Regions from separate parts of the Homo sapiens genome. Here all the other regions are linked to region 1. The links come from fine-mapping of genetic effects on gene expression. A gene starts in region 1. Each other region holds a variant in brackets. All regions are shown on one strand. Distances are from middle to middle.

Evidence for each region.
Region 2: its variant is fine-mapped to the expression of BCO2 in gastroesophageal junction (GTEx, PIP 0.97).
Region 3: its variant is fine-mapped to the expression of BCO2 in whole blood (TOPMed, PIP above 0.99).

Annotation. Positions count from the first base shown.
Region 1 is chr11:112,171,872-112,182,162 of GRCh38, forward strand. BCO2 (beta-carotene oxygenase 2) reads left to right here and starts at 3,641. Exons shown (of 12, transcript NM_031938.7): 1 at 3,641-3,818; 2 at 7,407-7,611. The coding sequence starts at 3,731. TEX12 (testis expressed 12) reads left to right here. Exons shown (of 5, transcript NM_031275.4): 5 at 1-685. The coding sequence ends at 45. It also overlaps the pseudogene KCTD9P4. RefSeq lists a silencer at 6,002-6,168.
Region 2 is chr11:112,203,506-112,213,796 of GRCh38, forward strand. It overlaps BCO2 (beta-carotene oxygenase 2), which reads left to right. Exons shown (of 12, transcript NM_031938.7): 9 at 10,219-10,291. It also overlaps the pseudogene MRPS36P4. Among named protein-coding and RNA genes, the nearest start is that of PTS, 18 kb to the right of the region's middle. The variant T/C (reference allele first, on the strand shown) is at 6,156.
Region 3 is chr11:112,114,276-112,124,566 of GRCh38, forward strand. No RefSeq gene overlaps it. Among named protein-coding and RNA genes, the nearest start is that of SDHD, 33 kb to the left of the region's middle. The variant T/C (reference allele first, on the strand shown) is at 4,594.

The DNA of each region.
Region 1 (10,291 bases):
CTGCGACAGAGGTTTACAGTGATTGCAAACACATTACACAGATAAAATATATACTTGAAATAAGCTGAGAATTTAAACCTATTATTGTTATAATGAAAGAATGACATTTATGCTTTGAAAGCTCTCGAGTTGTTAAAGAAAATGTATATCTCGAATAGAGAAGGGGAAACTCCTTGAATTTCTAGGTTTAAAAAGGAACTTTTAAATTCCTTAATGTTAATATTAATGTTCATGTTAATGTCCTAAGCTGGCCATTAACATGAACTACGTCACTTTTCTTTTGAGGGTCAAATATTTAGTGCATTTTATAGAAGTGTAAATTATTTAAATCTTATGTGGATTCTTTTATTTTTTCCTTAAACTTCTTAGTGTTTCTGAAACTTCTAAAAAAGGATTCAGTTAATTTATAATGTTTAATAATATTATACTTTTAGAATATTTTGTTTAAATATCAGATAGTTTTGGAGATAATTTTGAAATTTTTTTTATGGTCAGGATTATAAAAGAAGATTAAAACCTTAGAGGTGATTTTTCCAGTTTCTTAGAATATAATGACATAACTGTGTGCTATTTCCATTTGATTATTTTCACTATTAGTTATTATGTATGACTAATAAAAGCTCTCGGCTTAAAATTATTTTCTTGTGGTAAAAGTAGTAAAATAAAAACCAGAAATTACTCACCAGAACCTTGTATGAGTTGGCTTTTTTACACATCAACCACATCAACATGTGCAGTTAATGAATTATATTTAGAAACATTAGCAGCAGTGTGGTATGGGATAAAGATTAGTGATCCAGAAGTAAATAGATTGGCTTAAACAACAAGATGACTTTGGGAGGTCACTTCAATCGTATTATAATTGAGAAATTGAATTTGGACTGGAGGATCTATACTACTCATCTAGCTAAAAAAATTATCCCTTTAATGTGAAGTACTGCTATGATTTTACTGAAAACTTTCTATGTTATATATTACTATATGGGATAGCTATATTAACCAGATTTTTAAACAAAATAGCACCCATTTTTCAATCATATAGGCAGTTCAGTTTATTACATGTATATTTTTCCAATATAAGCAGTCAGAAAATTGCAAATAGTACTACAGGGAATTGTTATTCCTAAGGGAGACTGCACATTTGCCTTGCTGCCTTCTAAACTCTAAAATAAAATCTCATTTTATCACATTACTATTTTAAGGCATAAACACCACATGATGTAAATACTCATATAAGAAAAGATGACAAAAGTGAAATAAAATAATACTTGCTAAAGAAAATTGGTTAAGTGGAAAAAATTATTGGGTTGATAGAGGTGGTGGCACAGAATAGGTTGGAGGTCAACAAAGTAATTATTAGAAATGAATTTTTTTCTTTTTTGCCACTTGCAGTGGCTCCCATTTCTAATCCTAGCTACTTGAGAGACTGAAGTGGGAGGATGGCTTGAGCCCAGGAATCCGAAGCTGCCGTGAGCTATGATTGCATCACTGCACTCTAGCCTGGGTGACAGAGTGACACTCTCTCTAAAAAAAGAAGGAAAGGAAATTTTTTCAATTTTTTCTTTCTTTCCTTTGCTTTTTTTTTTTGAGACAGAATCTTGCTCTGTTACCTAGGCTGAAGTGCAGTGGTGCGATCTTGGCTCACTACAACCTTTGCCTCTTGGGTTCAAGTGATTCTCCTGCCTCGGCCTCCTGAGTAGCTGGGATTACAGGCGCCTGCCACCACACCCGGCTAATTTTTGTATTTTTAGTAGAGACGGGGTTTTGCCATGTTGGCCAGGCTGGTCTCGAACTCCTGACCTCAGGTGACCCACCCACCTCAGCCTCCCAAAATGCTGAGATTACAGGCATGAGCCACTCGCCCGGCCAAAAGGAAATTTTTTAAAACTAAATACAACAAGAAGATTTGTGAGTTAATACGACATGTCATCTGGATTTCGACCTACCATCATTAAGAAATGTTCTTTTTCTAAGCATTTATTACTAATATGAAAAATAAGGCCAACAGATTGTTTGAGACTAGATTTCATAATATACTTGTTATATCCTGATGGTATCACCATTGTTTAACATCTAGTTCTTCCCTTTGCAGGTTCAGTAAATTGATTTGATCATTTCATTTGATATGATTAAGACTGGAGAACTGATTTTAAGTCACAATGTGTTTACTGTTCAGCACTGTTCAGAATTGTTATACCTTGTAGTATAAAGGTGCCTGAAAGCCTAATCATGAAGGCTTATTTATTTATTTTTTTATTGATCATTCTTGGGTGTCGAAGGCTTATTTTTTAAATCAAATTTGGATGGCTTTGGTACCATCCACGTAGACAAGAGTAATTATCTTGGCCAGGCATGGTGGCTCACACCTGTAATCCCAGCAGTTTGAAAGGCTGAGGCAGGCAGATCACTTGAGGTCAAGAGTTCGAGACCAGCCTGGCCAACGTGGCAAAACCCTGTCTCTAATAAAAATTAAAAAAAGTAGCTGGGTATGGTGGCGTACACCTGTAGTCCCAGCTACTCAGGAGGCTGAGATAGGAGAATCACTTGAACCCGGGACACAGAGGTTGCAGTGAACCGAGATTGTGCCACTCTACTCCAGCCTGGGTGACAGAGTGAGACTCTGTCTCAGAAAATAATAATAATTATTATTATCTCACAACTGGAGAAATGCTATTGCAGGAATACTATTGCCCTTTAATTTACACTTCTAATGTTACTCTTTACTATTTCAATAAAATATCACAAATTTATAAGTTATTTTTCATTGATTACTAATCAAAATATATACCGAACTATCTTCGTACTCTGCTATATGTATTAAGACACTCCCTTCTGACAATTTTAACCACTTCTTTCTTGAAATACAATTTTGCTAGGAAAACATGATATGTTAATGTTAAAAGCAACTCTGTGGCAGTGCTGTGGGAGTTACTAGAAGACCTTTTGGTAAGGGAGTCAGAGAGGTAGATTTTAAATTGGATTTTTGAAAAGGAAAGGGGATATTTCAGGCAGGGGAAAAGTTTCTTCAGTGGCACAGAAGAACAAACGTATCATGGTATGTTAGTCACTTTGCTGGGATGATAATTCATGAAGGGGAATAGTGTATGGTCTAAACTGGAGAGCAGGGACAATCTTGTTTCTTGGTATTCTTACTTTGTAGCACAGTATTTGCTACATTGGTGCTAAAAATGTTAATAAAGTCATATACATTTTAAGGGCATACTTTCACTCATGCTAGATTGTCAGAAAATGTTCTGTAAAATTAATGAATAGAAAAGAAAAGGAAGGATGAAGTGATTTAAAGGCAGAGAAAAAGGATGAAAGGTAAATTGTTGCCAGATTGTAGCGTCCTCTAGTGGCAGTCTAAATTCGGACTTTATTCTGTGTCGGAATCTTCCAGAAGAGGAGTGGCATAAAAAAATTGATGCTGTGCATCAGGATAAACGGACTTAACTGTAGTGTGAGAACAGGTTTGAAAAAGAAAAGTTTAGGGCGGGGGAGACCACTATTGGTGGTCTAATTTTAATATTTCAAACAGCTGCGTATTATAGCTAGGGTGTTTGGACGGTTGTCATGGAAATAAGCCCCGCCCCTTAAGCTGCGTCCTCTCTTTGACCTGTCAGTGAGGGAGGGACAGTCCAGGCAGTTCTGTGCGTGTTCACTGTTTAGTAGTACTCAAAACTGCCAGTGTGAGAGGATTTGGAAATCACTGGATCTGCTCAATACAAAAATGTTTTTTCGAGTCTTTCTCCATTTTATCAGGAGTCATTCTGCCACTGCAGTGGATTTCCTTCCTGTGATGGTGCACCGGCTCCCAGGTAGAGGGTTTGCCCCTTTCTCTTCCTCATCCTCCTCTTCTTGCCAGTCTGCGCTTAGAATTCTGTGCCTCTTTCCTGAAGGTTGCTGGGAGCTTCTGAAGCTTTGTGTCCTGTGTGGCTCAGATGAGATAGCAATTCCGCAGAGTCCTGGAAGTTAAAGAAGGCTGAGTTAGGATTGTTTCCTCATGGTCAGGGAAACAGCCTTCACATTTGTATATTTTATGCAATATTTAAGGCAGGATTCAGGGACTTGGTATTCTTTGGGATTTGCAATAAGAAGAATATTCAATATTTAGGCTTTTCTAAATTGAAAAATCACTGCCACACGTTCTAATGTAATTGTTTGGTTTCTCTATTTGCATTTTGCGGGGACTGCCTTAAAACTCATTTATGTTTTATAGCCTTCTATTATAGTTACCATTGTTACATGATTTTATGTATAGAAATTGGCTGATCTAGAGCTTTCAGAAATCATACTAATATGCACTATAAATTTTAAAATTACTTAATGTAGTAATTTAATGTTTGCAGTATGCAAGGGAATGTATTACGTACTGGAAGGAGAGAGGAGACAAACACCAGACCCTGTACTCAAGGAGTACTGGTAGTATCATTTATCATACAAGACAGATAAGATAAGGTCCATATGAGAGCTATAAACAGATGCTGTGAGTTCAGACTAAGGAGAATCAGTTCTTGCTGTAGGTAAGGGGAATGCTGTGTTTATAAAGCAAATGACATGGCAACTGGATCTTGAAGGATGAGTTAGGTGAGTAAATTTCATCTGAAGGAGTTGGGAAATATCCTAGATGAAGAAAATTGATTGGCGGGGGGGGGGGAATTAAACATTCTATTTTGACATGTTGAAAGTCACCTGCAAGAAGTAATTGATGAAATTAAGAGACTAGATGAGATTGCCAAGGGAGAGTGCTGAGATTAAAGATCCAAGGTAGGACCTTAGGAACATTCATGAAGTGGTAAGGGGGATAAGGAGCCCATAAAGGGAATTAACATTTGGAAAGCATCCACTATCTTTATATTTGATTATGACAACAGACATAAACAGGAAGTATTAACCTCCTTTTATTTCCATTTTATCATGGAAAAACCTGAGGCTCAGAGACATTAAGTAACTTGCCCAAGGTTGTCAGCTAATAAGTAATAAAACTAGCAGAATGCAGAGAGTAGTTATAGGGCAGCAGGAAAGTTAGAATAGGACAATGTCTCAGAAGCTACGAATAGAAAGGAGTTTAAGAAAGTGTTAATGTCAAATTCTATGGAAACTTTGAAGAGCATGTAGCAGATTACCAGTAGCATGCAATAGAGTATACAACATATAGACATGTAAATATTTTCTACAATGTAAAATGCTTTAAATTTGTGTATCTCTACTTAGACAAATGCCCAATCAGGCCATTCAATTTACTTAAAAAAGTAAGATGAGTAAAATTACATACCTGACCTTAGGGAATTTATTTTAATCTGAGAATAAGATAAATGGTGCATAATGTTAATAAAAGTAGAGTAACATAAATACCTGAGAGTTTCCTTCTCTATCTTTTCAAAGCATCCTCTTTGTACTTCTGATACTGTAGTTCCCAGATTTTAGTATGCTTAAGAATACCTGCTTGTCCTTCCCCAGAGATTCTGATTTATTAGGACCAGAATGGAGTCCAGGAAACTGCATTTTAGCAGTAACACCAGGTATTTCTGTTGCAAGTAGTCCTCATACCAGACTCTGAGAAACAATGCTGAAATAAAACACAGTGTCAGTGATCTGTTTACTAGGCAGTCAGTTCTTTTATTTCAGGATTCTAATGCTTTTTATTCTCAGCAGTACCAAGTACTTCGTCAACTGAATAAAATAAAGGAGATATTACACCTTATTGGACTGATCATTAAAAGCTATGTAAATATAATAATAGCATTTTTTGAGTATTCTGTTCTAAAAGCTTTACATAAACTAACTCATTTATTACTTATAGCCTTAGAAGTAATATGAATTATCATCATCACCATCTTAGAAAAGAGGAAACAGACCACAGAGAGGTGATAAGTGCCTTTCTCAAGCCTTCTTATTTAGGAGAGGGCATATTTGAAACCAACCAGTCTGGAGCCAGGTAGAGCCCCAGCTCACACCCTTAAATATTACACTGTGCTGCCTCTTAAGGGAAGTACTGTAACACTGGAGATAGACCTTGACCAATTAATGGAATTTGCTTTTTTTTTTTTTTTTGAGACGAAGTTTCGCTCTTGTTGCCCAGGCTGGAGTGCAGTGCTGCGATCTCGGCTCACTGCAACCTTTGTCTCCTGGGTTCAATGCGATTCTCCTGCCTCAGCTCCTGAGTAGCTGGGATTACAGGGGTCGGCCAACACACCCGGCTATTTTTTTTTTTTGTATTTTTAGTAAAGATGGGCTTTCATTATGTTGGCCAGACAGGTCTCGAACTCCTGACCTCAGGTGATCCACCTGCCTTGGCCTCCCAAAGTGCTGGGATTACAGACTTGAACCACCGTGCCCCGCTGGAATTTTCTTAGAACTAGAGAAAAGGACATTGGGAAAGACATTCAGGGTGAAAGAGAATTTTATTTGAAAAATCAGTAAAGAATTAGGTTTGACTCATTTGTTACATGTCATATAGGGGAGTAGAATGTCTCGTGTGCTTCAAGCTGAATTTTTGAAAGATTTGAAAGAAATGGGATAGTAACAACTTGCTAAAAGAATGCAAATCTCACTTCTTCAGAGTAATAGTGTCCCTATATGTTAGCTCATTTTTCTAGCCTAGATTTCTGAATCACTCTTAAACTTTTATGAGATAAAGAATTCTATTTTATAGCACTTAATTATTTATTTGACCACCCCTCTATGTTAGGCAGTACTGCCTTGTGAACACTCAGTAATGTTAAAATAATAGGGAGAAGTTTCAGTTCCTTATTATACAACTATGATTTTTACTTCTTGTGCCTTTTGCACTTTAGGTAATTTCAGACTGGATATCACTGCATAATTTAATTTTTGACACCCTTCTACTGGAAAATGCCTTGTATTTTCATGTATATGCCATTAAAATAAAAGGAATTAAATTTAAGATCTTATTAAATTCACAGGAATCGCTATGAAGTCTTTGGAATCACATTCTGGTATATCTAAATTACTGGGGTCAATATAATTGGATAATATTGAATGGTGGTCATTTTTATAACAACGAGGTTGCTCTTAGCACATCTGGGGTTGGCATGTAGATTTATTCTTGTAAAAAGACAGGTATTGTTCAACTATGAGAAATGATAAAAATAGTAATTGAAGTCCTAAGTTAGTTCTTAGGCAGATTAGTAGTCCTAAGTTAGTTCTTAGGCAGATTAGTACTACAAAAAATAGAAGAATTGTTGTGGGTTGAAAATGGAGAACCAAAGCGTTGATAGTCTGGGAATGAGGAAGGAGAGAGAAGAAATTTGGAGCCTGTATTTGGTGTTAGGTTTATGTTTCCCTCAAGCTGCCAGTTGATAAGATTATTGTCTGTGGGAAACAGGCAAGTTTATAGAAGATTTGGTAAAATATTTTTTGTGCTTTTGGTTTCCTCTGCACAGTTTTCAAAAGGTACATGGGAAATACTCCTCAGAAAAAAGCCGTCTTTGGGCAGTGTCGGGGTCTGCCATGTGTTGCACCGCTGCTGACCACAGTGGAAGAGGCTCCACGGGGCATCTCTGCTCGAGTCTGGGGACATTTTCCTAAGTGGCTCAATGGCTCTCTACTTCGAATTGGACCTGGGAAATTCGAGTTTGGGAAGGATAAGTAAGCCTTGATTTTGGAGAACAACTTGGATTTCTTGGCATGGGCTGGTTCTGTGGAATATGCATTAATATCTGCTTCCTCTGTGAGGTTAATATTTCCATTCCATCCCTTTGATTACAGATAAAGAAACTGTAGCCTAGAGGAGAAGAAAGGAGACTTTTTAAACAAAATGTCCTGCTTTTTCTGCTCTGTAGACTATTGTAAATTTGAAGCCCTCTGTGGTTTGTACCAAAAGAAGAGAGGTGTCAGAAGCTGTCAGTGTGGTGACTGAGCTGTTTCCCCACAAGTTCCTGAAGGAAGGGCAATGTCTCCTCATACCACTCTCTCCCTCACCCAGCACTTGCCAGACACATGGTCTTTTTCAGTTCCTCAAACTGGGCACAGTTGTATCTTCTCAGCATCTTAGCATTAGTTCTCTCACCTATGTTCCCTAATCTTCCCAAGACTGGTCTTTTCATTCAGATGTCAACTCAAATCTCATGTCCTTTGAGCCTTTCCTGATCTCCCAACATAAAAATGCCAGCACAGTCATCCCTCAGCATTCACAGGGCATTGGTTAGAGGACCCCCTAAACACCAGAATCCAAGTATGCTGAAGTCCCTTATATAAAATGCTTTTATTTGCTTTTAACCTACATATATCCTCCCATTATCTTTTAAATCATCTCTAAATTACTCTATAATACTTAATACAATGCTTACACATACTTCATTCCCATGGATTTGTCTTAGTACTCAGCAAATTCAAGTTTTGCTTTGCAGAACTTTGTGGCATTTTTTTCCCACAATATTTTTGACTCAAGAGATTGGTTGAATCCACAGATGTGGAATATATGGATATGGAGGGCTGACTGTATTAATTATAATTACCTATTTTAATTCTCTACACAGTGTTATCAGTGTCTGGTATTTTTTATTTGTTATTTGAGTGTTAAGCTCTGTTCCCCCACTAGAATGTAATTTGATGAGGGTAGAGACTTTTTCTAGTTCATCCTGTATCCCCACTACCTGTAACAGTGGTCTGCACCTGAATAGCATTCAATAAATCGATGCCAATAAATGAAAAACCCAGGCAGGCTGAGGAGCCTAGAAGCAGGGTGGGAAGGAGGACTGGCTGAGCCCTGGGTGTGGGACAGAGTGCATGTGTGTGGTGTGTCCCCAAGGGCAGAAAGGTGGCGAAGGGAGGCGAATCCAAGTGGGTGGAGGGGGGGAAGGGCGGGAGGAGAAAAAGGTGGGAGGAGGACCAGGTGGGAGGGTGGTGGCCCACTCAGGACCCAGTGGGGGCAGCGTGATGAGGCGGATGACCCTGTTCCTGAACGGCAGCCCCAAGAACGGAAAGGTAGTTGTTGTATATGGAACTTTATCTGATTTGCTTTCTGTGGCCAGCAGTAAACTCGGCATAAAAGCCACCAGTGTGTATAATGGGAAAGGTGGACTGATTGATGATATTGCTTTGAACAGGGATGATGATGTTTTGTTTGTTTGTGAAGGAGAGCCATTTATTGATCCTCAGACAGATTCTAAGCCTCCTGAAGGATTGTTAGGATTCCACACAGAGTGGCTGACATTAAATGTTGGAGGGCGGTACTTTACAACTACACGGAGCACTTTAGTGAATAAAGAACCTGACAGTATGCTGGCCCACATGTTTAAGGACAAAGGTGTCTGGGGAAGTAAGCAAGATGATAGAGGAGCTTTCTTTTTTTTTTTTTTTTTTTGAGACGGAGTCTCGCTCTGTCGCCCAGGCTGGAGTGCAGTGGCGGGATCTCGGCTCACTGCAAGCTCCGCCTCCCGGGTTCACGCCATTCTCCTGCCTCAGCCTCCCAAGTAGCTGGGACTACAGGCGCCCGCCACTACGCCCGGCTAATTTTTTGTATTTTTAGTAGAGACGGGGTTTCACCGTTTTAGCTGGGATGGTCTCGATCTCCTGACCTCGTGATCCGCCCGCCTCGGCCTCCCAAAGTGCTGGGATTACAGGCGTGAGCCACCGCGCCCGGCCGAGCTTTCTTAATTGACCGAAGTCCTGAGTACTTTGAACCCATTTTGAACTACTTGCATCGTGGACAGCTCATTGTAAATGATAGCATTAATTTATTAGGTGTGTTAGAAGAAGCAAGATTTTTTGGTATTGACTCATTGAACACCTAAAAGTGGCAATAAAGAATTCTCAACCACTGGAGGATCATTCACCAATATCCCAAAAGGAATTTGTCCGATTTTTACTAGCAACTCCAACCAAGTCAGAACTGTGATGCCAGGGTTTGAACTTCAGTGGTGCCGATCTTTCTTGTTTGGACCTTCGATACATTCACTTCAAAATGGCCAGTTTAAGCTGCTGTAATCTTGCACATGCAAATCTTTGCTGTTCAAATCTTGAACGAGCTCATCTCTCTGGATCAGTGCTTGACTGTGCAAATATCCAGGGAGTCAAGATGCTCTGTTAATGGGAGAAAATTTTTGCAATCTACCCATCTGACAAAGGGCTAATATCCAGAATCTACAAAGAACTTAAACAAATTTACAAGAAAAAAATCAAACAACCCCATCAAAAAGTGGGCAAAGGATACGAACAGATACTTCTCAAAAGAAGACATTTATGTAGCCAGACACATGAAAAAATGCTCATCATCACTGGCCATCAGAGAAATGCAAATCAAAACCACAATGAGATACCATCTCAC
Region 2 (10,291 bases), 32 kb after region 1:
TGATGTTATGGGATACATGTAAATATTAAAATGGTTAGTATAGTGAGGCAGATTAACATATCTATCATCTCACATGTTACTTTTTTGTGTGACAAGAGCAGTTAAAATCTACTTGTTTAACAAAAATCTCTGATAGAATACAATCTTATTAACTTTATTTCTTACGTTTGTACGTTAGACCTCTAGACTTGTTCATACTACATATCTACTGTTTGGTATCCTTTGAGCTACATCTTGTCTTTGCCTTCCCCTCCCCTCTGGTGGTAACCACTGTTTCATTGTCTTTCTCTGTGTATTTGAGATTTTCTTTAAAAAATTCCACATAAAAATGAGATCATGCAATTTTTTTTTCTTTTCTTTTTTTTTTGAGACGGAGTCTCACTCTGCCACTCAGGCTGGAGTGCAGTGGCGCGATCTCGGCTTACTGCAACCTCTGCTCCCGGGTTCAAGTGATTCTCCTACCTCAGCCTCCCGAGTAGCTGGGACTACAGGCACATACCAACATGTCTGGCTAATTTTTGTATTTTTAGTAGAGACCAGGTTTCACCATGTTGGCCAGGCTGGTCTCTAACTCTTGACTTCAGGTGATCTGCCTGCGTTGGCCTCCCAAAGTGCTGGGATTACAGGCGTGAGCCACAGCGCCCTGCCTCATAGAATATTTTTCTTTCTGTGTCTGGATGTTTCACTTAACATAATGTCTTCCAGGTCCATCCATGTTGTAGCAGACGTCAGGATCTCCTTTTCTAAGATTGAGTAATACTCCATTGTGTGTATATATCACATTTTCTTTATCCATTCATCTGTCAATGGGTATTTAGGTTGTTTCTGTTTCTTGACTGTTATGAATAATGCTACAATGAACGTAAGAATGCAGCTATTTTCATGAGGTGGTGATTTCATCTCATTTGAGTATATACCCAGGAGAGGGATTGCTGGGTCATATGTTGTACAGTTGACCCTGAACAACATGGATTCGAACTGCATGGGTCCTTATATGCAAATTTTCTTCTACCTCTCCACCCCTGAGATAGCAAGACCAACCCCTCTTCTTCCTCCCCCTCAGACTACTCAATGTGAAGACAATGAGAATGAAGACCTTTATGATGATCTACTACCACTTAATGAATAGTAAATATATTTGCTCTTCCTTATGACTTTTAGTAGCATTTTATTTTATTTTTTTTGAGACAGAGTTTTGCTCTTGTTGCCCAGACTGGAGTGCAATGGCGTGATCTCGTCTCACTGCAACCTCCGCCTCCTCAGTTCAAGCAATTCTCCAGCCTCAGCCTCCCGAGTAGCTGGGATTACAGGCATCTGCCACCATGCCCGTTGTATTTTTAGTAGAGATGGGGTTTTGTCATATTGGCCAGGCTGCTCTCGAACTCCTGACCTCAGATGATCTGCCCACCTTGGCCTCCCAAAGTTCTGGGATTACAGGCTTGAGCCACCACACCCAGCCTTTAATAACATTTTCTTATTTTCTTTTATCTGGTTTGCTTTATTGTAATAATACAGTATATAATACATATGAAATACAAAATATGTGTTAATTAACTGTATGTTATTGGTAAGGCTTCCAGTCAACAATAGTTTATTAGTAGTTAAATTTTTGAGTAGTCAAAAGTTATGTGTGGATTTTCGACTATGTAGGGGGTTGGCACCTCTACCCCACTCCGTGTTGTTCAAGGGTCATCTGTATTTTTTATTTCTTTAGGAACTCCTATACTGTTTTTCATAATGGCTGTACCAATTTATATTCCCACCAACAATGTACTAGAGTTCCCTTTCTTCTACACCCTTGCCAACATTTGTTATCTCTTGTCTTTTTGATAATAGCCATCCTTATGAGTGTGAGGTTTTATATAGTGGTTTTAATTTGTATTTCCCTTATGGTTAGTGATGTTGAGCACCTTTTTATATGCCTATTGGACTTTCAAATTTTATTTTATTTTTTATTTTATTCTTTTAGGGACAGGATCTCACTCTGTTGCCCAGGCTGGGTGCAGTGGCATGATCATAGCTCACTGAAGCCTCAAACTCCTGGGAACACGTGATCCTCCTGCCTCAGCCTCCCAAGTAGCTGGGTCTACAGGTGCGTGGCACCACACTCAGCTAATATTTTAAAAACTTTTTTGTAGAGACAGGGTCTTATTATGTTGCCAAGGCTGCTGTCAAACTCCTGGGCATGCATGATCCTCCTGCCTCAGCCTCACAAGTAGCTGGGATTACAGGTGCATGGCACCACACTCAGCTAATATTTTTAAAACTTTTTTGTAGAGACAGGGGCCTTGTTATGTTGCCAAGGCTTTTCTCAAACTTCTGGGCTCAAGTGATCCTCCTGCCTCAGCCTCCCAAAGTGCTGGGATTACAAGTGTGAGCTACCACACCTGGCCTCTATTTTTGGAGAAATGACTGTTCAGGTCCATTGCCCATTTTTTATTTATTTTTAATTAATTAATTAATTAATTTATTTTTAACTTTTAATTAAAAAGTAAACTTTAATATTGAAAATGCAAACTTGGGGAAGACAGAAAAGATCACACACAAGGCTGTCACTTCACACTTGGAAGGTTGCGCAGCGGCCAGGCAGAGGCGCTCCTCACATCCTAGACGGGCGGCAGCTGGGCAGAGGTCCTCCTCACTTCCCAGACAGGGCGGGGGCCGGGCAGAGGCGCTCCTCACATCCCAGACAATGTGGGGGCCAGGCAGAGGCGCTCCTCACTTCCCAGACAGGGCAGCGGCCGGGCAGAGGCGCTCCTCACTTGCCAGAGGGTGGGCGGCTGGGCAGAGGCACTCCTGGGGCGGCAGGGGCGGCAGCTGGGCAGAGGTGTTCCTCAGTTCCCAGACGGTGGGCGGCCGGGCAGAGGCGCTCCTCACTTCCCAGACGGGGCGGCGGCCGGCTTTTCCCATTTTTTAATTGGGTTATTTGTTTTTCTGGTATTGAGTTGTAAGAGTTCTTTATAAATTTTGAGGCCAGGTGTGGTGGCTCACGCCTGTAATCCCAGCACTTTGGGAGGCCAAGGTGGGAGGATTGCTTGAGCCCAGCAGTTCAAGATCAGCCTGGGCAAGATGGCAAGACCTCATCTCTACAAAAAAATTTAAAAATATACAAATTTTGAGTATAATTCCTTATTGGATATGTGGTTGCAATTTTTTTCCCCAGCCCATAGGTCGCCTTTTCGTTTTGTTGATTGTTTCCTTTGCTGTGCAGAAACTTTTAAATTTGATGTCAACTTGTCAGTTTTTGCAAGGAAAAAACCTGATACAATATTGCAACTGTAGATCAATTTGGAGACAATTGACATCTTTACAATATTGAGTCTTCCAATCCATGAACATGGAATATCCCTCCATTTATTTGGGTCTTTTAAAATTTCTCTCAGTAAAGTTATAGTTTTCAGTATAAAGATACTACATTTCTTTTTGTGTGTTTTGAAATTATTGTAAATGGTATCTTTTAAGCTTTCATTTTCTGTTTGTTGCTCTTTATAGAAATGCAATTGATTTTGTATATTATCTTCATATCCAGAGATCTTGCTAAATTCACTTATTAGTTCAAATAGTTGATCCACAGATTATTTTGGATTTTCTATGTGCACAGTCATGTTACCTGAAAATAATGACAGCTTTCTTTCTAATACTTAGGGCTTTATTTCTTTTTCTCGCCTTACTGTACCAGCTAGGACTTCGAGTTGAATAGAAGTGCAAGATAGTGAATAGAAGTTGAATAGGTAGTGTTGAAAAATGTTTAATAATTCATTATTAAATATAAAATTGCTATAGGTATTTTTCTAGCTATCTTTATCAGATTATCCTAATAGTGCCTTTTAATGAATAAACATTCTTAACTTAATATGGCCCAGTATACAGTCTCTTCCTTTATGACTTATACGTTGTACATCTTGTTTTAGACATCTTCTCATGGCAAGGTAATGAAAATATTATCCTATGTTATCTTCTAGAGAAGTCAAGTATCTGTATATGCATTATTCTGTTTCTGGACTGTATATTCTGTTCCATTGTTTCTACTTATGGTTACTTGTGCACTGCATTAAAAAAGTCTTAAGGTTTAGTGTCAAGTTATCCTAATATTTTTCTTTTGAAAAGAGTGTCATGGCCATCCCTGGCCCTTCACGTTTTTGTAGAAATTTTAGAATCAGCTGTCAGTTCCCCACACAAAAATATGGTCACATTTTAATTCTATTTGCACTGAACCAATGTATCAATTTGAGAGAGGACTAACCTCTTTACACAATGTTGAGTCTTCCAGTACGTGAACACAATATATCTTTCCATTTATTTGAGACTTCTTTAATTTCTTTCAATGTTTATAGTTTTCTGGTTACATATTTTCTGCATCTTTTGTTAGATTTATTCCTAGGTTTTTTTTTTACATTATTTTAAATGTTGTTTATTTTTTGCTTTCATTTTATGTTAGTGTTGCTATATAGCAATTTTTTTTTTTTGAGACAGTGTGACGGTCTCACTCTGTCACCAAGGCTGGAGTGCAGTGGTGTGATCTCAGCTCACTGCAACCTCTGCCTCCTGAGTTCGAGCAATACTCCCACCTCAGCTTCCTGAGTAGCTGGGACTACAGGCATGTGCCACCATTCCTGGCTAATTTTCATATTTTTTTGGTAGAGATGGGGTTTCACCATGTTGGCCAGGCTGGTCTTGAACTCCTGACCTCAAGTGATCCACCCACCTTGGCCTCCCAAAGTGCTGGGATTACAGGAATGAGTCACCGCACCTGGCCGGCAATTGATTTTTGTTTGTTGATTTTATATTCACTAATATAGTAATTACACTTACAAATTCTAATAATTATAGATTCTTTTAGATTTTTACATCTATAATATCATATGCAAGTAATGATAGTTCCTTTTCTAACTCTACATGTAAGCTGTATATTGGCTTTTTTTTTTTTGTCTTATTTCACTGGATCTTCAGTACAGTGTTGAATATAAGTGATGATAATGGCATCCTTAACTTGTTCCCAATCTGAGAGGCAAAGCTTGCAGCATTTTACCATGAAGCATGCTGTGGCTGTAGATTAAAAAAATATAATAGAAACTGTCCCTTCTCGGGGGTCATGATGGGCAGCAAGATGCATCTGCTAGCAGTGTCGTTCAGGTAGTCAAGCCACATGCTCCATTAATAAGCTTCCCTGCTGGAAGAGACAATCCTAAACCCAATGTACCAGAAGCTCTGAGATCAGCAGGGCAACCATCTCACGATTCTGCAATTTCCCAGCATTCTAAGGGAAGTAAATTACTGGATTTGTGGATGTACCAGACACTGCAGAAGTAATGAAAACATTACCTCAGAAATATAGAAGTAAACTTGTGTCTCAAGAAGAAATTGAATTTGTCCATTGTGGAGATCCAGAATAATCACTGTGGCTGCTGTTTGTCATCAGACAAAAGAATTACCTTTACAATAAAGGACTTCCAAAAAAAAATAGACTGTTTTTTAGAGCAATTTTACTTTTAAAGAAAAATCAAGCAGAAAGTATGGAGAGTTTCCATATTTCCCTCTCCTGCTAATGGTACATTTGTTACAACTGATGAATCAATGTAGGAGTGTTACATTATTACTAACTAAAGTCCATACTTTACATGATGGTTAGGTCTGTGTTGTACAGTTCTACCGGTTTTGAAAAATGCATAATGTCATGTATCTACCAATATCATACAGAATAGTTCACTGCCCTGAAAATCTCCCTGTGCTCCCCCATTCGTCCCTTCCCCTTTCCTCCTCTCAGCCCCTGGAAACCACTGATCTTTTCACTATTTCTGTAGTTTTGACTTTTCCAGAATGTCACATAGTTGGAATCATACAGTATGTAGACTTTTCAGACTGACTTTTTTCACTTAGCAATATGCATTTAAGGTTCCTCTGTGTCTTTTGTGGCTTGAGAACTCATTTCTTTTTATCGCTGAAATGTGTATTCATTCATTTATTGAAGGACATCTTGGTTGGTTCCAATTCTTGGCAATTATGAATAAAGCTGTTATAAATATTTGTTAGCACGTTTTGTGTGGACAACTTTTTAAAAAGATACATTTTATTAGATTAGGAGAGTTCCCTTTTACTCCTAGTTTACTGAGATTTTTTGTCATGAATGGATGTTGGACTTTATCAACTGTTTTTTT[T/C]CTGCACTATTGAGATAATCATATAACGTTTATCCTTTATTCTGTGAACATGGTGAAGTACATTGACTGATTCTTTAAAAAATGTTCATAACAGCCATTGATTGATTTTTGAATGTTAAGCTACCCTTCCATTCCTGAAGTAAATCCCAATTGGTCGCATTTTATTTGCTTTTAAATATATTGCAGGATTTGCTTTGTTACTATTTTGTTTAGAATTCTTTGTATCTATGTTCATGAATAAAATTGCCCTTTAATTTTTTTCTTTTCTATAATGTTCTTACTAGGTTTTGGTTTTGTGGTTTTTCTAGTCTCATACAATGAGTTGGGAATTGTTCTCTGTTTTCCTTCTTTCTGGATGATATTGTATAGGATTGATATTATTTCTTAAATATTTGGAATAATTCAACAGTAAAGCCTTCCAGACTTGAAAATTTCCTTATAGGCAGATCTACAGTTCTAGAATATTGATTTGGTTCTCTTTTCCAATTTATAGTTCTCTACCACAATTCTCAGTTTAAAATAATTTCCTTAAACATATTTAGAATAGTTAAAGTCTGATAACTAGTATCTGGATCTTCTGTGATTCTGTTTCTGTTATCTGTTGTTTATTTTGGTTTTTAATCATGTTGCCTTGTCTTTTCATGTGCTGGTTATTTCCTTTCATTTGCAGAATATTGTGTTTTAAAAATTGTGGAAATATTTTGAGACACAAGATGATGTTATTTTCCTCTAGAGAAGAATTTCACTTGCTTATATAATTTGAAGCAGGATTCAGTCCATGCAAGAGCTGGACTATTTCTTGTTTATTCTTATTCATAGGGTACAGACCTATGAGGTCCCAACCCAAAGGACTAGAGGTTTACTAGGCCTTCCTCTTCTTGGAAAATCGTAAATTCAAACTTTTGTCACTCTAGCCCTCAAAACTATTGAAAAGCCCTTCTCTTTAAGGTTAAGGGGTAAGTGAGTTGCTATGGCTATACCCTTATCAAAAAGTAGCGTGAAGGATCCTTGTGGTGATGGATCTGTTCTGTATCTTGAGTGGCGTGGTGGGTACATGAATTTACACATGATAAAATAGCATAGAACTAAATACACGCACACACACACACACACACACACACACGAATGCATGTTAAACTAGAATAAGGTTGGTGGATTGTATCAATGTAAATTTCCCAGTTGTGATATTATATTATAATTATGCAAGACATTCCTACTGGCAAAAAAGGATGACGAATATATGGGAAATCTCTGTATTATTTCTTTTTTTATGGTGTAGAAAGTATATATATATAACATTAAATTTACCATTTTAACCATTTTAGGTGTTCAATTCAGTGGCATTAAGTAAATTCACAATGTTGTGCAACATCACCACTATCCATTTCCAGAACATTTTCATCATCTCAAACAGAAACTCTGTACCCATTAAACAATAATTCCCTGTTCCCCCCACCTCCAGTCCCTGGTAACCTCTATTCTACTTTCTGTTTCTATGAATTTGCCTATTTTAGGTACTTCATGTAAGTGGGGTCATACAATACTTGTCCTTTTGTGTCTGGCTTATTTCACTTAGCATAATGTTTTCAAAGTTCATCTATGTTGTAGCATGTATCAGAATTGCATTCCCTTTTAAGGTTAAATAATATTCGATTGTATACACACACACACACACACACACACACACACACAATATTTGTTTATTCATCTGTTGATGGATACTTGGGTTGTTTCCATCTTTGGAGTATTATGAATAATGCTGCTATGAACATTGGCATACAAATATCCAAATTCCTTTTTTTAGTTCTTTTAGGTATATATCTAGAAGTGGAATTGCTAGATCATGTAATTCTGTGTTTAACTTTTTGAGGAACAACCAAACTATTTTTCTACGGTGGCCACAGCATTTTTCTACCATCAGCAATGCACAAGAGTTCCAGTTCTTCACGTTTTTACCAACATTTGTTATTTTCTGGGTTTTAAAAAAATAATAACCATCCTAATGGGTGTGAAGTGATATCTCATTGTGGTTTTGATTTGCATTTTCCTAATGACTAATGATGTTGAGCATATGTTTAAGTAGTTAGGGAAAAACTTGCCCCAGTATCCAGTTGGTTTCTGTGGGTTTCCTTTTCATCCCAAACCTGGCCCCTTTGTTCTTCACTGTCTTTTTAGCTCACCAGTGCCTTCAGGCAGCTGTTTTAAACATTTTGTCCATAATTTCTAGTTGTTTTCAATGGGGTAGTTGATCCATATAATGTAATCTACCATTATTTGAAGCGTCTTTTGGGTTAGCTATGGTTTTGCAAGAGAAAACAATTGTAAATATAATTAAAAGTCATTTTTAAAAAGTTGGTAACTTCTGAAGCCATGGTGACCTTTTATAAAAAAAAAAGCTAATAACTTTATGAATCTTAAGAATAGCACTAAATCTTTACTCACTAAAAATATTTCTGCATGCTACAGAGATCATATAGACTAGGTATATGGGAGGAAATGGTGCAGTTTGTTCTCCATCCTACAGTATTTCAGAGAGGAAAATGGGCTTAAAGCACTTACTGTCAGGAAAAACACACTTACTTTATTTGGGTCTCCTGCTTAAACATCATCTCTATGGAGAAGCTGTGTTGGGAGTTCCCAGGATCACCCCTAGGTTTGATAATTCATTAGGAGGATTCATAAGACTCAAAATAGGTCAGGCGAGGTAGCTCACGCCTGTAATTCCAGCACTTTGGGAGCCCAAGGCAGGAGGACTGCTTGAGCCCAGGAGTTCGAGACAAGCCTGGGCAACATAGTGAGATACCATCTTTATTAAAAATTTTTAAAAAGACTCTATATAGTCATACTCATGACTCATGATTACAGTAAAAGGATACAAAGCAAAATAAGCAAAAGGAAAAGGCACATGAGATGAAGTCTAGAGGAAACCAGGTACATGCTTCCAAGAGTCCTTTCCCAGTAGAGTCACAATGGACATGCTTAATTCCTCCAGGAACTAGTGACAACATGTGTAAAATGTTGTCTGCCAAAGAAACCCACCCAAGCCTGCTTGTCCAGGGTTTTTATTGGGGATGAATCATATAAGCATAAAACCCCTACATGATGACCCTCAGTTACTGATGTTCCAGATCCTCAAGGGAATGGAGGTGTTCATTATAAATCACATTGTTAGCATAAACTATCTGGACAAACTACTGCAGAGTCACTTAAGGACTGGCACATGCAAGAACACTCTTATCAGACAGAACATCCCAAGAGCTCAGTTCCCAGCAACCAGCCCAAGGTCAGTCATGAAAACAAGTCTTTCTTGAAATAGTGCAGGGTTTGAGCAACCCAGGCTTACTAAGTTGATCCTTTTCCACACAGAGGTCTACCTGATCAAATCTGAAGAAGGAAAGCACCCTTTGTTACTCTCTAGTTTCTTACTCTTTGTTATATAATCATTTGTTTATTTGATGCTAATTAAATAACTTTTTTTTTTTTTTTTTTTTTTTTTTTTTGTGACGGAGTTTCACTCTTGTTGCCCAGGCTGGAGTGCAATGGCATGATCTCGGCTCACCGCAACTTCCACCTTCCAGGTTCAAGTGATTCTCCTGCCCCAGCCTCCCGAGTAGCTGGGATTAGAGGCATGAGCCACCATGCCCGGCTAATTTTGTATTTTTAGTAAAGACAGGGTTTCTCCATGTTGGTCAGGCTGGTCTTGAACTCTAGACCTCAGGTGATCCGCCTGCCTTGGCCTCCCAAAGTGCTGGGATTACAGGAATGAGCCACCGCACCTGGCCACAAATATTTTATAATTTTTAAATTTCTTTATTATCATTCCTCCACTAGAATATAAATTATATGAGGCCAAAGACTTTGCTTTATTCATGACTGTATCTCCAGTGTCTAAAACTGCTTGGGCTATAGTAGGTACTCAACAAATATTAAGTAGATGAATGAATGGAAATTATCATTTATTTAAATATTTAGGAATGCCAATGATGTTGACTGGATCTAAATTATTGGGACATACTGTTACCATATGAATGACAATTTTCATCTCTTTCTTCTTCCCAAACAGGTCCATAATTCAGCAGCCAAATCTTTCCCTCGAAGGTTTGTTTTGCCTTTAAATGTCAGTTTGAATGCCCCTG
Region 3 (10,291 bases), 58 kb before region 1:
TACAGGTGCACACCACCACGCTGGGCTAATTTCTGTATTTTTTGTAGAGGTAGATCTTGCTATGTTGCCAAGGCTGCAGGTACAGATTTTAAAGGAGGATTCAACCATCCAGCTATCAGACAGAAAGCAGAACCAAAGGAAATCCTCACTCACTCTGCTTGGTAACAAACACTGAATCTGAATAGCTATCACCCTGTTCAAAATTGAGCACGGAGAAAAAAAAATCAGCATGGGACCTATTAAAAAAACAAAACAAAACTATAAAACAAGTGAAAGAAAAAAGTATAATAGAGGTTCAGAAGTTTTGCATAGGTCCAAATGATTTTTTGCGGAAGCCAGGAAAAAGTTCTAGGAAATTGTTGGGTATCTTAAGTGGAAGTGAGTGAGTCATGAGCTCTGTAACAGAAGAAGATGAAGGTAGGCTAAGATGGAAGATAAACTAGGTGTGATGAAAGAGGAAAAAGAAAAGGAAGGGTTGAAAGGAAATGAAAAACACAGGATAAGGAGTAAAAAAGCAAAATTAATTCTGTCAAATTAAAATTAGCAAAGGAAGACAAATGTAAATAAATTTCTCAGGCCAGGCACGGTGGCTCATGCCTGTAATTCCCGCATTTTGGAAGGCCGAGGCAGGCGGATCACCCGAGGTCAGGAGTTCAAGACCAGCCTGGCCAACATGGTGAAACCCCCGTCTCTAATAAAAATACAAAAAATTAGCTGGGTGTGGTAGTGGGCACATGTAATCCCAGCTACTTGGGAGGCTGGGTCAGGAGAATCGCTTGAATCCAGGAGGTGGAGTTTGCAGTGAGTGGAGATCGCACCATTGCACTCCACCCTGGGCAACAGAGTGAAACTCCGTCTCAAAATAAATAAATAAATAAAAATAATAAATAAATAAATTTCTCAGATGCAGAGGATAAAGACAAAGACCAAAAAAAATGCTCACGAAAAGACAAAGATGCATATTCAAAAACATTCATCAACATTGTTACTTCTGATAGAAAAGAAAATCGAATCAAGCTAAATGTGTAACTAGAGGACCAATTAAATAAATTGTAGGATATTCATACATATAAGGTAGGTTTCCTTTTGGCTGCAAGCAGAAGAATACACACCCACTATCTCCCATTAAAAGAGTACTACCACAGAATCGCTCATAGAAAAAGATGTCTGGGTAGGCAGGTCCAGTTTTGATGCAGCGGTTAAGGATGTCATCTCAGACTAAAGTTCTTTCTGCCTCTCTGTTCTCATCCTCAGCATGTTGGCCTGTCACTTTTAGGCTCGTCAATTTGTGGTCACAGTACAGCTGGAATGGCTTCAAGTACCACATTCTCCTTTGATTGATTCAAAGGCAGGAAGCAGGGTTGCAGGTAGGGCAGTAAAAGCCTTGGTCGTCAGAACATCTTTTTCATCATTCCCTGCAGACTTCTTTTTAGAGTTCATTGATCAGAGCTGGCACATTTGGCCACCTCTTGCTGTAAAGGCTTAGGGAAACGAGTGTCTGCTGTTCTCAGTCTCTGCATTAACAAGGGAGAAAGGGGCTGGGGATGGCCTCTGGGTGGTCAAAAATATAACATGAGTACTCCATTGCTATTCAAAATGATATACATCAATCTTTGACTGCATCTCTGATTATTTCCTTAAGATAGAGTCTTGAATAGGAATTTCTAGGTAAATCATCATGAGCCTTTAAAAAGTCCTGGTTATGTCATGCAGTTGATTTCCAGAAAGCCAACAGAAATAGATATGTGTCAACATGTATATCTCCTGATGCCCGCACCAGTACTGAGTGAAAAACTTTGCTGAATGTTCCTGTTTGTCTGAACTTAAAAGGAGCACATGCATAGAACAAAGAGCCAGCATTTGTTAAATAGCAAAGATAAGCTCATCGAAACTAAGATAAAATAGGCCAGGCACGGTGGCTCACACCTGTAATCCCAGCACTTTGGGAGGCCGAGGTGGGTGGATCACTTGAGGCCAGGAGTTCGAGACCAGCCTGGCCAACACGGTGAAACCCTGTCTCTACTAAAAATACAAAAACTATCAAGGCGTGATGGTGCACATCTGCAGTCCTAGCTACTCATAAGGCTGAGGCAGGAGAAACACTTGAACCCAGGAGGTGGAGGTTGCAGTGAGCCGAGATTTGTGCCACTGCAATCCAGCCTAACCAATAGAGTGAGACTCTGTCTCAAAACAAAAAAAGGAAAAAAAGCCTAAGATAAAGCAAGAATGTTTCCTGTCCTCCCTCATTTCTGTTTAACAGAGATACTAACCATAGAATCATTGGATTCTTAAAAAAATGAGGAACAAATATAGGGAAAAAATAACAATACAGCAGGATTTTTGGATGACATGATCATAATTAGACCATGCAAGTAAAAAAAAAACACCTAAAAATCTATAAGGGAAATAAGGGGGGAGTGGAGAAATAGAAGAAATGAGATAAGCAAAATGTCGATAATTGTTGAAGCTGGATGATGAGTATTTGTGCAAGTTTTAAACTTTTTATAATAAAAGTTGTTTTTCCAATCTTATTGTGTTAAAATATAAATAACATAAAATTTACCATCTTAGCCATTTTCAAGTGTACAATGCAATGGTATTAAATACATTCATAATGCCATATGACCATTACCACCATCCAGCTCCAGGACTCTTTTCACCTTGCAAAACTGAAATGCTGTACCCATTAAACTCCCCATTTCCTCCTCCTTCTGGTCTCTGGCAACCACCATTCTACTTTATGTTTTTATCCATTTGACTATTCCAAGCCTTATATAAGTGGGATCATACAGTATTTGTCTTTTTTAGACTGGCTTCTTTCACTTAGCATAATATCCCAAGGTTCATCACATTGTAGTGTATGTCAGAACTGCCATCTGTATTAGTCCATTTTCACACTGCTGATAAAGACATACCCGAGACTGGACAATTTACAAAAGAAAGAGGCTTATTGGACTTATAGCTCCACATAGCTGGGGAGGCCTCATAATCACAGTGGAAGGCAAGGAGGGGCAAGTCACATCTCACATGGATGGCAGCAGGCAAAAAGAGCTTGTGCAGGGCAACTCTCATTTTTTAAAGCGTCAGATCTCATGAGACCCATTCACTATCATGAGAACAGCAGGGGAAAGACCTGCCCCCATAATTCAATCGTCTGCCGCTGGGCCCTTCCCACAACGCACAGGAATTGTGGGAGCTACAAGATGAGATTTGGGTGGGGACACAGAGCCAAACCATCTCACTATCTGTTTTTTTTGTTTTTGTTTTTGTTTTTTTGAGACGGAGTCTTTCTGTTGCCAGGCTGGAGTGCAGTGGCGCAATCTTGGTTCACTGCAACCTCTGCCTCCTGGGTTCAAGTGATTCTCCTGCCTCAGCCTCCTGAGTAGCTGGGATTACAGGCACAAGCCACCACACCCAGCTAATTTTTGTATTTTTAGTAGAGACGGGGTTTCACCATGTTGGCCAGGATGGTCTCAATCTGTTGACCTCAGGTGATCCACCCACCTCGGCCTCCCAAAGTGCTGGGATTACAGGCGTGAGCCACCACACCCGACCTTTATATATATATACATTTTTTTTTTAATCAACACAAATATTTTAAAATACCATACACTTAAAAGGAAGTTCAATTCATATCTTAGACGTCAGGAATAAAGGAGTGGCACTTTCTGTTGTCCACCAGTTTTCCTGTTTCTAATCTGAATATTCTTTCCTAAAAAGATGGATGTGGGCCAGGTGTGGTGGCTCATGCCTGTAATCCTAGCACTTTGGGATGCCAAGATGGGCAGATCACTTGAGGTCAGGAGTTTGAAGCCAGCCTGGCCACCATGGTGAAACCTTATTTCTACTAAAAGTACAAAAAAAATTAGCCAGGTGTGGTGGTGGGCACCTGTAATCCCAGTTACTTGGGAAGCTGAAGTAGGAGAACTGCTTGAACCTGGGAGGCGGAGGTTGCAGTGAGCTGAGATCACACCAGTGCACTCCAGCCTGGGCAACAGAGAGAGACTCCATCTCAAAAAAAAAAAAAAAAAGAAAGATGGATGTGACAGATGGTTGACATAGTATTAAAGGTGCCTCCTGAGCCATGACTCAGCTATGTTGGTGGCCCTGCTAAATTTGTGGCCAGGGCACCTCCTCCCTTTCCCCCAAACTGGTTTCATCTCCCTCGAAGCTGGTTTCTCTCCCTCAAAGCTACTACTGCAGAATTAGGGGCTTATTTGGTATGGGTTTATTACTTCCTGTGACTTAGAATCTTGGAGAATTCAATACTTTTTAATTTAGCTTCTTTGTTTTATCTAATAAGTTTAGTAGATTAAAATATTCTTCTGGCCAGGTCAGGGTCTAACCACTATAGGGTATCTTCAACTCAATGTACATTTTAACCGAAACACACTCAGCATCTCACCTAAACACGATCAATATGGGCCTCTATTGTATCTTTTTCCAAGGTAATATGATCCTGACAATATTCTCTGGAAAAATTTCACTCATAGACTAACCCATATTTTTGTTTTTCCTCATTCCCACCCTCAAAGGTAATATGAATGCAAATAAAATTTAAAAGAACCTCCCATGGAGAGGAGACATTGCCAT[T/C]TTCCATGAGGTACAGAAGCCCACGTTTCTGAGTTGGTGGACACAGTGGCACAAGTAGGAAGTTTTAGTTTTGAGGGTTCCTTTCTTCTCCCTCTTCACGTCAATGTACTTTGGTTGTCTAAAATGCGTTGAAAGCCTTATTTTCTGTACTTTATGTCTCTCACAATGTCATCTAAAAACATTAATTGGCATTACAACATTAATCTTGCTTTTACATAATTTTAAAAAAATTAATTATTTTTTTTTCTTTTGAGACAGGGTCTTGCTCTGTTGCCCAGGCTGGAATGCAGTGGCACAATCACAGCTCACTGCAGCCTCGACCTCCGGGGCTCAAGCCATCCTCCCACCTCAGCTTCCCAAGTAACGAGACTACAGGTGTACACCACCATGCCCGTCTAATTTTTTTTTTTTTTTTTTTTGTAGAGATGGGCTTTCACCATGCTGTGTCGGCCATTACCCAACTCCTGGGCTTAAGTGATCCACCTGCCTCAGCCTCCCAAAGTGCTGGGATTACAAGCCTGAGCCACCGCGCCCAGCTGTTAATCGTGACTTAATACATGTGCATCTTCCCCTGTTTCCTGTGTTTGCTTTCATAAGTCCACTGCTCCTGCTGTGAAGATGGGTACATTCATCTGTCATAGCTTAATGACACCACCTTAAAATTTGCAGATGGGTTCATATACATCTTATTATTCACTCACTCATATATTAAAAAATATTTAAGTATCTACTATGTACCAGGCACTGTGCTGGGTCCTGGGGATACAGAGATGAAAAAGATACCAGGAGGCTGGGCGTGGTGGCTCACGCCTGTAATCCCAGTACTTTGGGAGGCCAAGGTGAGTGGATCACTTGAGGTCAGGAGTTCGCGACCAGCCTGGCCAACAGGCTGATGGTGAAACTCCATCTCTACTAAAAATACAAAAACTAGCCGGGCGTAGTGGTGCATGCCTGTAGTCCCAGCTACTTGGGAGGCTGAGGCAGGAGAATCGCTTGAACCTGGGGGAGTGGAGGTTGCAGTGAGCCAAGATCGTGCTTGGGCGACAGAGCAAGACTCTGTCTCAAAAAAAAAAAAAAAAAAAAAGACACCAGAAGCTCACAGACTTGATGGACAGGCACATAAGCCAATAAAATGTGTTCAAAGCAAACTTCTGATAATGGCTTGGTTTCTAAAGAGACTTTTTTTAAAAAACTGGGAAGTCAGGATATTGACTAATGGACACTGGAATTTTGTTCATTTGACAGTTTTATTGTGTGTGTGTGTGTGTGTGTGTGTGTGCATAAAAAATGAATACATTTATATTTTGGCTTATGTCCTATGTCTTAAGAGCATGGCTAGCACTTAATCTTTAATACGGGTAACTGGACAAATGTAAGGTTGTGACCCTTAAACTTGAACCCCATATGCATTCCCCCCTGGCGATCACACCAAGGCTCAGACAAGCAGGGCAGTCTGGTCTGGTCCGTCGACTGTCCTCTTTCTCCTTCTCAACATATAGAACATCCCATTGGTCACAAATGCTGGATAAATGAAGGATTGCAAAAGCTCAAACTTTTTTCTTTTTTGCTTGCATTGATGTTGTAATTAACACATAGGAGCTGAGCTTTTTCCTGTGCTGACTTGTAATTTTGGCATCGTTCAAACTGGAAACGGGTTCTAATGGTATCAGTGTTATTTCCTGGGCAATAAATATCTAAAATAGAGAAGTGAGTCATAGGCCCAATGAAACTTATGAACCAAGATTAGTCACGCGGATAGTGGAGCTGCTTAACATCAATATAACTTTCTCTTCAGGTCGTTTCCCACAAAATTGGGTGGAAAAACCCACTCCTATTGCTCAGTTGGGCAGTTGCAACGATGAGCTAAATCAATTGTACTCTGGCAGTACTGTAGTAATAGCTGTAGTTTAAAAAATCACGGTAGTTAATCCACTTTGTTTCAAACTCTTCTATATGCTTTAAAAGGTATGAATTGGCAGGGCGCGGTGGCTCACGCTTGTAATCCCAGCACTTTGGGAGGCCGAGGTGGGCGGATCATGAGGTCAGGAGATTGAGACCACGGTGAAACCCCGTCTCTAATAAAAATACAAAAAAAAAAAAAATTAGCCGGGCGTGATGGCATGCGCCTGTAGTCCCAGCTACTAGGGAGGCTGAGGCAGGAGAATGGCATGAACACAGGAGGCGGAGCTTGCAGTGAGCCGAGATCTCGCCACTGCCCTCCAGCCTGGGCGACAGAGCGAGACTCCGTCTCAAAAACCAAAAACCAAACCAAACCAACCCCCCCCCCAAAAAAAACCAGAAAACAAAAAGGTATGAATTATTAGGGATATAATATCCAATTAAGAAGAAAGATGTTAAAAAATGACTCAGAACTATGGCAAAAACTATTCTATTTTGGAGGTGTTTTGAAATTAATTTTAATTTATGGGTGTTTTGGAATGAAGCAGTCCTGTCCTCTCAAAAAGCAAACAAACAAACAAAAGGGCATTGTGATTTTGATTGCTTTAGAATGTCAGTAGGACTAGTTAGTCAAAGTCTATTTCTAAAACATACCTCCTTTTCGTCATTGCAAAGGAGAAGTACACTTTACTTTCAAGGCTGACTTTGGGCATTGAGAACACAGAAAGATGATTTCCTACATTCTTAGCTAATTAATTTTAAGTGTAGCTGGAAGCCTGGTGAGGCAGAACTTAAAGAAGATGCTACTTCTTGACTTTTAAGCAGAGGCAGCAAATCACTTACAGTAAAAATTACTCAAGGAAATCACTCAATTGGCTTTTTTTGCTATGGAATTGTGACTTTTTTCCTATAATGCCCTAGGGAAAGAATATAACTGTACCTCCCTTCCTTCCAATTTCTTCAATGTCCATAGCTTTAAAGAAGAGGTCAAAATTTTGTATAAAGGACTCAAGAACCTCTCGAAAGGACAAGCTCTAAGAGTCCAATCTCTTACCACTCTCAGCGTCAAGGTTAGGGCACCTTCATTGGAAGGAAACTGCACGGTCCAGTTCTAGACTTGGGGGCAGATAAGGCCAGGAGTTCCAGTTTCCTGCCATAAAATTACCACAATGGCTGGAGATGAAACCAGCTTGACGGCCCCTGCACTGGCGAAGGCAGCAGGAGAAGGGCACAGCTTTTGGCATGTGAAATGGCTGGTGCTGGAAGCTGGCCTTACCCAGCTGTCTTGGGGCAGACTTACCTCCTGAGAAAGTAACTATGTCCACAGAGCTGTTGTCTTGAGAACCCCTGACTGAACTAACGGTGAGACATGAGCTTGTTTTTTTTTCAAGGAACTCTTTAGTCTAGACTGTTGCAGCAAGTGGAAAGCCCCTTAGACCTTCTTGGGACATCTGTGACCCTAGCTCCTACAGTGACCCTTCCAGGAACAACCAGTCTGGTGGTGATGGGGTCATCTTTTGGCCTCAAATGCCAAACAAGCTTGAGCCTCTCTTTCCCCGTCTTCTGACACTTAGACTCACAAAGGAGCCTGCAAGCCTAAGGGGGATGAAACTGCATGCCTTTGGAGATGAAACTGGACTTGTGTGTGGGCGCTGAGCATTAAAGGTTGGGAGGTGAGGGTGTGTGCAGTTGGATATTATAATAACCTCAGTAATGATTCACACATGTAAGGCAAAAATAAGAAGCTCAATTCTTCCTGTTAAAAATAAAGGATGCCAGGCATGGTGGCTCACGCCTGTAATCCCAGCACTTTGGGAAGCCGAGGGGGATGGATCACAAAGTCAAGGAGTTCAAGACCAGCCTGGCCAAGATGGTGAAACCCTGTCTCTACTAAAAATACAAAAAAAAAAAAAAAAATTAGCTGGATGTGGTGGCAGGCGCCTGTACTTCCAGCTACTCGGGAGGCTGAGGCAGAGAATTGCTTAAACCTGGGCGGAAGAGGTTGTAGTGAGCCCAGATGGCGCCACTGCACTCCAACCTGGGCGACAAAATGAGACCCCATCTCAAAAAAAATAAAAATAAAAAATAAATAAATAGATAAATAAAATAAAATAAAATAAAATAAGGGATGAGACCTGCCCTGGTCCCTTTTCTTAGAGTATTTACTTTAGAAAACGTGTAAGTTCTCTTCAGAATACATAAAATCCTTGTAAAATTTAAATACGAATTTTGCTAGCTTTACAACCCAGGAATGTCTTTCTCAAGGACCCAGGAGCCATCTCTTCTGAATGTAAACTTCCAGGGAAAATCATTTCCCTGTGTCGCAGTTTTTGTGAGAGTGTAGGAGCCTAGCTTCGGCAGGTGCCTGGCACCCAGTGGCAAAACTCCCTGCTGCCAAGAAGATAGCAGAAGTTTCTTTTTCCTTTGTATTAAACCAAGTGACTAACACAGGTGGTCACCCCTGTTACCAGGTGAATTTAGGATGAACGATGTGTTATGAATGGCGCTGTCAAGTCCTCTTCCTTGGACTGATGATTGTTTATCTTGAGAACACGTGTGTAATGGATTGCGTCTGTCTGGCTGTATGAAAGGGTGAGATTTATTTCTGCCTTTGCAATCTTTTAGTGAATTGCTTGGGATGTGCATCACTTTCTGGTTTAATGCTTATTCAATAATAAGTGTGTTTTCTTTCTCTTCCTTTGTGGAGAGATTTACTGGGTTGAGAGAAAAGTTTATTTTTAAGTATATTTCCCCAATTACACTAATGCCACAACTCAACAATATGTGAAAAAAGGAAAATTTATATTGACTTGAATCCTTCAGAAGACCTGACTTTTAACAAATTTATTTTGTCAGACTTTACAAGAAAATGGCCTTTTTTTCCTTTTGTCTCTTCCTCTCCCCCTCATTTTATCCAATTTTCCTATATTGCCTGTCTCTCTTTTATCCTATTAAAAGACCACTCTTAAAATAAGATAAAGTCACGATTCTCAAACAGATGTAAAAATGAACACGTTAAAGATTTTATTCTATTCACTTAATCTATGAGAGAATCAGGAAGCTGTTGCAACCAGTTCAGAAGATAATCTGAAGAACAGACACATTTATAGAGAAGAAATATTGAAATAAATGGGATGGAGGCAAAACTGGTTTTCAGAAGGAAGGAGGGAAGTCAATGGCTCTTCCACTACACAGGAGAGAACTGCATGTCTATAGACAAGAATTATTTTGGATTGTTATCAGTTCTATACAACTTAAAGAATAGTAAAATAGCTTCAGCAGAATTGGAGTCAGATAATTAGAGGGGCCTCCTCAAGACCATGCATAATATAATTTTCCACTAAAGCATAAAAGTTCTCCTACAATCTTCTTTCTTTCTTTTTAGAGACAGAGTCTTACTCTGTTGCCCGGGCTGGAGTGTGGGGGCACGATCATAGCTCATTGCAGCCTCGAACTCCTGGGCTCAGGTGATCCTCCTGCCTTAGTCTCTTGAGAAGCTGGGATGACAGGTGTACACCACCGTGCCCAGCTAAGTATTCTTCTTACTGTAAAAAAAGATTAATAACATATGTGGGCTGGGCATGGTGGCTCAAGCCTGTAATCATAGCACTTTGGGAGGCTGAGGCGGGTGGATCACGAGGTCAAGAGATCCAGACCAGCCTGGCCAATATGGTGAAAAACCCTGTCTCTACTAAAAATACAAAAATTAGCTGGGTGTGGTGGCGGGCGCCTGTAGTCCCAGCTACTCAGGAGGCTGAGGCAGGAGAATCGCTTAAACCCGGGAGGCGTGTAAAGACAC